Linked DNA regions of Homo sapiens. The protein of the gene in region 1 interacts with the protein of each later gene in a pairwise test. Each region holds a gene or a part of one and is shown on either strand. Other genes may lie near its edges.

Region 1 (5,068 bases):
AGAGTCAGCCTACAGGAAAATTTTTATGAAAAATTCAGTCTTTGAGAGGGTCCACCTACCACAGATAGCCAGAGGCAGTCTCAAGACCACTTGGAAACTTGTATTAATCAATTTATTCTTCATCAATATTTATTTACTTGTTTGTTTTAGCTAACAATGAAATAGAGCATTCTACTCCCAAGATACTATGCTAAAAGTGCTTGTTCATCTCCTCATTCTAGCACTCTAGAGAGGAGAAGAGAGACTTTGGCAATTACTGTCTCCATCTATAAAATCAGACTTGATAATCCCCTCTCAGTCCCTTCGGATTAACTAGGATATTACACAGGGTAGCGTTTTGAAAGGTCTCTTCCTCCCACTCCAACTTCATCTCATACCATTTACTCTTGCTTCCTATACAACAGCCATAATTTTTTTTAGTTCCTCTATGTTGAGGTAAACCAGCATTATCCAACTGAAAGATACGGTTAGCCTTAAAGAAAAGCCACATATGTAATCTCAAATTTTCTAGTAGCCATATTTTAAAGTTTGTAAAGAGGTGAAATTAATTTTAAAATACATTTAACCCAATATATTCAAAATATTAACAATTCAACATATAACCAATATAAAAAGTTAATGAGTTATTTTACATTATTTTTTCAGTATTGTCTTCAAACTCTGGTATGTATTTTATTTACACTTACAGTGCATCTCTATGTGAATCAGTCAGTGTGCTCAACAGCCACACTGGCTAAGTAGCTACCATATTGAGCAGCACATCTCTAAACTTTTACCTACTCTCAGGGCCTTTGTGCATTTAAAATGTTCCCTCTGCCTGACATGCTTTTTCCCCCTCAGTGTTCTGCATGACTAAAATCTATTTATCATGCACATCTCAGTTTAAAAGCATCATTTCCTCAATGAGGTCTTTTCCTTATCACTCCAAAATTCTCTACATTAGTCCTTTATCTCTTTTGTAGGACTTATCAAAATCTGCAACTGTCCACTTGTATATCTACTTACTTTTCTCTGTATTACCCTCTGGAATGTAATCTTTGTAAGAGCAAGGACAAGGACCATGTCTGTATTATTTATGAGTGTATCCTTAGTACTAAGTACAATGCTTGGCACACAGGAAGAAATCAATAAATATGTGTAGTCTAATTAAGGAATAAATAGAAGCACTATAGAGCTGTACAGATGCTCCTTGACTTATGATTAGGTTACGACCTGATAAACCCAACTTACACTGAAATACTTTAAGTCAAAAATGCATTTAATACACCTAACATACCAAACATCGTAGCTCAGCCTACCCAACCTTAAACATACTCAGAACACTTACGTTCACCTACAGTTATGCAAAATCATCTAACACAGAGTCTATTTTTTAATAAAGTGATGAATATCTCATGTAATTTATTCAATACTGCACTGAAAGTGATTGGATGGGTATTCCAAGTATGGTTTCTACTGAATGCATATTGCTTTTACACCATCATAAAGTCGAAAAATCATTAAGTTGAACCCCTGTAAGTCAGGGACCAGCTGTATTGGATTGGTACATACATGAAAGAGTGTGTGTGTGTGTGTGTGTGTGTCTGTGTGTGTGTCTGTGTGTGTGTGAAGAATATACTCAGCAGCCATTCCTAACTGTCCTGGAACCTTTACCACATAGTCAACTAAGTCAATTATCCGGCAAGTGGCAATGGATAGTAAAAAAACGATTTTTTGAAAGAGTTAGAGGGAACTATAAATATATTTTACCATTCTCCTAGGAACCTACAATTTTTTAAAAAGTGCCACTGGTCAGGGCAGCACCCAAATGATCAGGAACAGGTGACCAGATTTGGAGACAGAAAATATGAATTAAAGATTCCAGTTTGTAACTTCCCAGCTACATAATCATGCCACTTAACTTCTGTTCATTTATAAAAATATGATGGCTAAAGAACAGAATTAAGTTAAATGAGACTCTATATAAAAGGGTTTTGAAAACAGTAAAGCACAAAAATTATATATATAATCCTATATATAATCTCTAGAAAGTCCAGGAAACTTGGACTTTTCAAGTCTATCACAATGGGCTTTCTCATTTTGCTCACCTGGTTCTTTATTTTTTTTTAAGTTACTTTACAAATTACATATGTAATTTATTAAATTAAGCAAAATCTATCCTGGATACCAAAAAAATCTCAGACTCTGGACTGGTGAGATAATTCCATATGAGAAAATAAGTGGGAGGGAATGTTATAAAATAGTAATTCTTGGCCGGGCAAAGTGGCTCATGCCTGTAATTCCAGCACGTTGGGAGGCTGAGGCGGGCAGTTCACTTGAGTCCAGCCTGGGCAACACGGCAAAACCCTGTCTCTACAAAAAATACAAAAATTAGCTGGGCTTAGTAGCATGCCCCTGTGGTCCCAGCTACTCGGAGACTAAAGTGAGACGATTGCTTGAGCCCGGGAGGGCAGCACTGCAGTGAGCTATGATGGAGCTACTGTACTCCAACCTGGATGACAGAGCAAGACCCTGTCTCAAAAAAATAAATAAATAAAATATTAATAGTAATTCTCTAACAGGTAATTGGAGAACCAAGAGCCCCTCCAACTATACCAAGTCCCTCTTTACCCATCCCCAAAACTGGCAATTTACATTTTGTTCCTGTAGCCCATTGGGAACTATTTCCATAGTGAAATACTGTTACTGATGGACTACATCCCAGTGTATCACAGAGAAAGGGTGAGGGCAGGGAGTAGGTGAGAAGGTTAAGAATCACTGTCGAAATATTCAAGCAAAGAAGTTGGCATCAAATTCAACACATTTATATGACAGCTAAGGAAAACTGAGTCTCAGGACGGTTAAGTGACTTGCTGTGGTTACACAGTAATAATTTTTAAAAATGTCTTCAAGGCCGGGCGAGGTGGCTCACGCCTGTAATCCCAGCACTTTGGGAGGCAGAAGCGGGCAGATCACAAGGTCAGGAGATTGAGACCATCCTGGCTAACACGGTGAAACCCTGTCTCTACTAAAAATACAAAAAATTAGCCGGGCATGGTGGCACGCACCTGTGGTCCCAGCTACTTGGGAGGCTGAGGCAGGGGAATGGCGTGAACCCGGGAGGCAGAGCTTGCGGTGAGCCGACATCGCATCACTGCACTCCAGCCTGGGCGACAGAGCAAGACTCCATCTCAAAAAAAAAAAAAAGTCTTCAAATGACAGCTTGATGTCTCTGCTCCTAAATTTCCTCATCTGTAAAATGAGTTAGCCAACATCAGTCTAGCACATTACAGCTTCCAAATTGTTGTGCATATATCCACAGAGCTTACCTGATTCCCTACCACACCGCAAAAGTCTAAGACGGCTATGGTGTAATAGAAAAAGCATGATGAACTAAACAATCATAAGAACCTGGCTTCAGATCTTAGCTGTGCTGTATAGCCTCAGCAAGTCAATTAACCTCTTTGTGTTTTCTTCTATCAAATGAATATAAAACAACACCTGTCCTAGCTAACCCAGGGGATTGTCCAAAGAATAAAGTCAGATAATATCAGTAAAAGTATTTTGTACATTATACAAAAGGCCCTTCATCATCTGGGCCCTGCCTCCTCTCTGCTCTCACGCCTCCCCACTTTACACCCTATCTTCTAAGCATACTAAACTACACAGGGCTCCCCAAACAGGCTCTCAAATCTTCTGCTCACATATTGCTCTCTCTTTCAAGAGGGTCCATCATCTCCCCTTTCTTCTCACCCCTCCCTGACTGTGCTTCGTTAACCCCTGATCATTTTTCAGAACCCATCTTAGATGTCACCTCCTTTAAGAATGCTTGCCAGGCCACCCCCATTTCAAGTGCAGCAGATGCCCTTCCTCTGTGTTCACATGGCACTTGCACTTATCTCCATATTTTTGTCATTTTTTGTCTCAATGTAGTGTAATTGTCTATGCACATGTCTGTTTCTCCCGGAAACTATAAACCCAAGGGTAGAGGCTATGATTCATCTGTTTATTCAGAACCTATGACAATGCCTGATGCATAATATGTATTTAGCAAATGAATGAACTTTAAATGGCAATAAAATATTACTTTTCATATAATACTTACATAAGACATTTATGCAAAACATTGTTAATATAAGGCAGTGCTTCTCAACTTTGCATATCAGAATCACCTATAAACCTTTCAAAATAGAGATGCCAAGGCAACTCTTTACATCTTCACAAGTAATTCAAGTGCATAGCCGAAATTAAAACCACTGCTACACACAATCATAGTCATAAAATTACAAACTACTCTACCTAACATCTATATAGCTCAGTATCTTACAATTCACTTTTACATATATTATTAATCTTCACAAGAATTCTGTAAGTTAGGTATTATTTCTTTCAAATGAACAAATAGAGATTTAAATAAGTGTCCAAGTAGCTCTTTGTCTAACTTCAAATTTTGTGCTCTTCCTTAAACCCTCCCTTGGTAAGTGCAGTAATACACAAATCAAGGGTTCCACCAGTGAGGAAGACATCAATCTTAGCTTTGTGGGAATCCAGGAGGAAATAAGGAAAGCTGGACCTTAAAGATATAGGCAGGCAGATGAGGGTGGAAGCCATGCATATACTGTCATTGTCATTTGCCATCCCAAAAGATTCAAAAGGCAGATTCTATAAATTAGAAAATGCTCTTGCCAGCCTCAGTTAGTACTTAACAGTCTGAAAGGGAAAGGGATATTGGAGAAGGCTGGAAGTAGAAAAGTAATAAAAGAAAGCAGCCCATAAACAAGAATGGATTTCCCAATCCTGCATGCAAATTACCTAACTCTGACTCCAGGAACAAAAGCCAAGACATAATGGACTTAAGAATTAGATGAATTCTACAGTCAATCAATACCACGAAAACTCATGAGGGATGAATGAACCTCTGGTTCTTTCTAGACTTACTACTACACTATTCCTCAAGAAGGGATAATCCGGAGAAGCCTAGCATATACATGACTTTCCCCATCTCAAAAACTAAAAGAATGGGAGAGAAGAGGAAGATATTCATGAAAGAAAAGGCTTACAAAAAGGGTAGAAAAATGTAGCACATTAA
Region 2 (4,927 bases), on another chromosome or scaffold:
TTCCCCCAGGTGCTCTGTCCCAGGGAGATGGGACTTTTATCTATAAGCCCCTGACTGGGGCTGCTGCCTTTCTTTCAGAGATGCCCCGCCCAGGGAGGAGGAATCTAGAGAGGCAGTCTGGCTACAGTGGCTTTGCATAGCTGCGGTGGGCTCTGCCCAGTGTGAACTTCCTGGCAGCTTTGTTTACACTGTGAGGGGAAAATGGCCTACTCAAGCCTCAGTAATGGTGGATGCCCCTCCCCCCACCAAGCTCCAGCATCCCAGGTCGACTTCAGACTGCTGTGCTGGCAGCAAGAATTTCAAGCCAGTGGATCTTAGCTTGCTGGGCTCCATGGGGGTGGGATCTGCTGAGCAAGACCACTTGGCTCCCTGGCTTCAGCCCCCTTTCCAGGGGTGTGAAGGGTTCTGTCTTGCTGGCATTCCAGGCGCCACTGGGGTATCAGAAAAAACTCCTGCAGCTAGCTCAGTGTCTGCCGAAACGGCTGCCCAGTTTTGTGCTTGAAACCCAGGGTCCTGGTGTCATGGGCAGCCAAGGGAATTTCCTGGTCTGTGGATTGCGAAGACCGTGGGAAAAGCGTAGTATTTGAGCTGGAATGCACTGTTTCTCAAGCCACAGTCCCTCATGGCTTCCCTTGGCTAGATGAGGGAGTTCCCCGACTCCTTGCACTTCCTGGGTGAGGCAACACCCCACCCTGCTTTGGCTCGCCCTCCGTGGGCTGCACCCACTGTCTAACCAGTCCCAGGGAGATGAGCCAGGTACCTCAGTTGGAAATGCAGAAATCATCCACCTTCTGCGTTGATCTCACTGGGAGCTGCAGATCGGAGCTGTTCCTATTCGGCCATGTTGCCTGTCACCCTGACATTTGTCTCTTTACGAACACAGTATTTCTGTCTGTTGAAGCTTCACCGGGGAGAGACCTCCTTTACTCAGTTTGATTCATTAACACTCAGCATTGCTGAGCAGTCATTGTGCCGGGCACATGCCCAGTGCTATTGTGCGTACATCTCATCTCATTCTCAAAGTAACCCTGAGAGATAGGTCATTTTCCCCCGGCTGGAGCAGAGGAATAGGGAGCTCAGACAGGGCGGCTCGCGAGAACGAGGTTGTGCGTGGCCGAGCCCTGATTTGGACAGAAGCGCACTGCCTTCCTCACTGAGTCTTTGGTCACAGCAGTCAGCCCCGGCCTCTGTGCAGGGGGACGCTCTGAACGTCCTTACTGTGCTTGTGTGTAGGGCTTGGGGTTTCTGACAGAAATTCTCTTTCTCCATAAACCTTGAGGGTTTCCTGTGCAGGTGTGGTCACAGGCCGGAGGGTGAAAATGCTGACTGCCCTGGCATGTGCCCAGGTCCCATCAGGAATGGCTGGTGCAGCCTGTACTTCTCTTGGTAGCCCGCTGACAAAGGCGGTCTTGTTTTTGTCAAAGATGGGGCAGTCTTAAAATGAATACAAATAAGCGGCTCAAGTTTGAGACCCTCACGGAGCAGGTGGTTTCAAATGTCAGGCTTTGAAAAGGAAATGTTGAGAACTAATGAGAGAAGCAGGTCTCCAAAGCCTATTCCTTGAGGGCTTTTGGGCATCAGCTGCTTTTCCCCCAAGCTCCCTGCTGCCAGCTCTCTTGTCCACTAGGCTCTGAGCAGCCTTGGTGCTGGCACCAAGAAGAACCAGGGGCACAGGGACCCCTGCCAGGAGGCTCCCGCCAGCATCCTCAGGGCCGTAAGCTCCAACTCAGGTTTTTACTGAAACCTCAGTGTGCTTCTCAGTCCTCCGGGGTCAGCCTTGCTGGAGCCACCTTGTTGTGTGGGACTGACTGTTGCTCTCCTGGGCCGTCGTCATCCTGGGAGCTAGGCACTCCTCCTAAGAGGACCTCTTCACCGGTTTTTGTCTCGTTCTAGACCAGCCACTGCATTACGTAGTTGTGACTGAAATTTGAGTTGCTGAATTGTTTTTCAGTGTCACACCGCTATTTACTATTCAGGCCGCCACACACACCAGGCCCTGCTGCTGGTTGTCTCCCTCCAGTGAAGCTTTGTCTGAGCCATTGCTGTAATTACCTGCCTTAGAGCGAGAACTGGAGGTAGTCAGCTTGAGCTGTGGGTCATGTGGCCTCCTCCTAGTTTCTGTGCACATGTACACAGACATGTGTCTGCCCTTTGGAGTCTCCTGGGATCTGAGTAACCTGGATTGTTTTTAAAAACAAGTCAAACAAGATATGTGGAGTTTCCCCCCGATGTGTGAGGCTCCTTCAGCAGGGCTGTGATGGCAGCTGAGTGGATGGGGACAGGCTCTGGCCGTGCTCTGTGATCACAGAGCTGTCAGCAGGAGAACCCACAGGAGGTCTGATCTGGCCCTTGGCATGGGCTGAGGGGAGAATGTGCCACAGGTAAAATGCAGGCTGGCTGCCAGAGGTCAGCACCTTTTCCCGGTTGAGGCTGTATGCTCACTCAGCTAGGTGGTATGGCGGCCTTTTTATGGACACCTGGCTTCTGGAAGGTAGCTGCCAACGTGGTACTTGGGGAGGCGAGCCAGCTGTTAGGGTGGGAGCAGAGGCCCTGGGAGCTCAGAAGGATGATGATAGCTGCTGGTTCAAAATACGGACCTGCTGATCCTAAGCTATTAATCTTAAACTTCTGAAATAAAGACAGAGATGGAAGGAGTTAGAATAGTGCTGGTCCATATTTTCCCCGAAATGAGAAGTAGACTTGGAATCCTTTTCTATATCCAGGATCCTAGTTCCTGCATTTTTTCCTCTGGTTCTTATTAGCATTTTTCACTTTAAAAAGTAAAAATACGTATTACAGTTGCCAAGTTTAAATTATTGGGATAAAATGCCCTACCACAGAATTAAAACCAAAATAATGCTCATGTGATGTCCCTTAAGGTGGTGAGTGGGTTCAGGACCCTCAGCCACCTGCTCAGCAGGGAGAAGGCAGGGAGGGAGGGGTCCCTACTCGCACAGGACAGCGGGGGACAGGCCAGGGCATACCATTCGAGTCCATCACAGAAGTGGCTCTGGCAGACTCTCTTTGGAATAAGAATAGAAATAAGTTTTGTATCTGAAGTTGGTTAAGTTTCTCTGAAATTCGCATCAGTCAACACCCAGGTCACAGCTTCCTTTATCCTCTCTTGGAGAGGATCAGGGAAAGGGTTGAGAGAGCCCTGCCTTCTCAGAGGGCGGCCGAGCGGGCTGCCCCATCTGCCATGGAGGCAGGTACAGGCTCATGGCGTGGCGTCCACAGCTCCTACCATATCCTTCTTGCTTCTCTGCAGAGAATCTGGACGAGGCTAGAGAACAGAAAGAAAAGAGTCCTCCAGACCAGCCTGCGGTCCCCCACCCGCCTCCCAGCACTCCCATCAAGCTGGAGGAAGGTGAGCTCTGGGTGGCAGCGGCCGCCACTGTGGGAGGGTGCACGGCTCGTGCGCGCTGTGGCGGAATGTGGCGGGAGTCGTGTTAACAGCAACACGGAAGTGTGTGCTTGCATCAGCGCCAGGACGTGACACCTTTCTCCTCCTATATTGCTTCTGTCCTGGGTAACTCCAGGCAAAACAGATTTGTATGTGAGCTGTGACCAGGTAGGAAGGCCGGCCTCGGGGGTCGGAACCCACCATGGTTGCTGGTGTCCACGTTGCCCATTGCTCGCACACTCCTCGTGCCGTGTTGTCATGCAGATGCCACCTTCGGAGGTGCCCTCCGCTGTGTGAGCCACACGCCGGCTGCCTCTCAGCCACCGTGTGTCTGTGGTGTGTGATCCCGGGTGTCTGTCCCTCGGTCTCGTACATCCATGTCTCTCGTGAAGCCCGTGGCCCTGCCTTTCTTCTTCTGTAACCTGATGGCTGTGACTGAATGCATAGATTCTCTCCTTGTGCTTTTTTCTCCCTGTGGCTGCGTCACAAGCAGGAGACGGATGCGCTAGAGAGTACCTGTTACCCTAGTAAGTACCGTGCTGCCTCCGCTCTCCACCGGTGCCCTGCGCTTTGCCTCATTCTCCTGCTTCTTTGTTGTTTATTAAGTTTTGTTTTCTGTTTATTTAAAATAAAAACAGAAGCCCCCCTTTTTTGTACCCAGTCCCTTGGAGGCCTTCCTGGAAGTGGTTCAGTCACCTGAGTGCTGTGCTGCCTTCAGCGGCAGCGGGTACCTCCACGCACCTAGGTGCCATGGAGCACTCTGGGCCTCAGGAGTTCCTACCTCCAGCCTTTGAGGGTCTCTTTGGATTGCTTGGTGGGAGGGTTTTGCCACACTGGATCAGATGTAAGTGCAGCCTCGGTTCAGACAGGGTGGGGTTCTGCCACCTGCCGTGTGGGGTCAGATTGCCTTGGACCTTTGCTGAAGCTGGTCCAAAGGAGGTGGGCAGAGGAGCGGATATTGGACCCTCGTAAAGCAGTGTGATGTTCACTCAGATGATGGCAGCTCTCCAGAGCGAGTGCCCTGGGGCAGCCTCCGTCCTAGCATCAGCCACACCATGCCCAGCAGAGCGGGCCCCATCTCCTCAGGGGGAGCGGCGCCTGTGTGCCCATAGCCCTTTCCCGGTTCTCATGAAGCGTGGCCTGGAATTAGCCTGGGGCAGCTGGCAGGGTGGGGGTGCTTCCAGCTTCCCAAAGGTAAAGCACTGAGAGTTTGGGGCCTGGGCCTCCTGTGCTGCTCCTAACCACTCAGCTGACTCCCCTGGCCCTGATGTGTGGCTTGATTTTTAAACACTAAACAGCTTGTGGTGCCTAACCTGTCAGTTGCTGGTAACTTTGTAGGCCGTTTACGAATGGACAGAGCGGGTGCCCGGGTAAGTGCAAGGAAGGCGCCCCCAGGCTGTGTCCTCAGGGCCGCTGTGCTCCTTCACAGATGGCCACTCCTGATGCTGGGTGGAGTTTTTGCCCCCACTCCTTGCCTTACAGGCCATCTCTTTCCTTTTAATTAACTTCCAGCCTAAACGGCTT

What was found.
Region 2: the proteins of PAK1 (region 1) and ADD1 interact in binary tests that used the Homo sapiens proteins (3 or more experiments, as listed by UniProt).

Annotation. Positions count from the first base shown.
Region 1 is NC_000011.10:77,463,431-77,468,498, forward strand, and holds part of PAK1 (serine/threonine-protein kinase PAK 1), read right to left. Parts: intron 1-5,068. UniProt on the Homo sapiens protein: Protein kinase involved in intracellular signaling pathways downstream of integrins and receptor-type kinases that plays an important role in cytoskeleton dynamics, in cell adhesion, migration, proliferation, apoptosis, mitosis, and in vesicle-mediated transport processes.
Region 2 is NC_000004.12:2,922,746-2,927,672, forward strand, and holds part of ADD1 (alpha-adducin), read left to right. Parts: intron 1-3,268; coding exon 3,269-3,367; intron 3,368-3,896; coding exon of another isoform or gene 3,897-3,930; intron 3,931-4,927. UniProt on the Homo sapiens protein: Membrane-cytoskeleton-associated protein that promotes the assembly of the spectrin-actin network. Binds to calmodulin.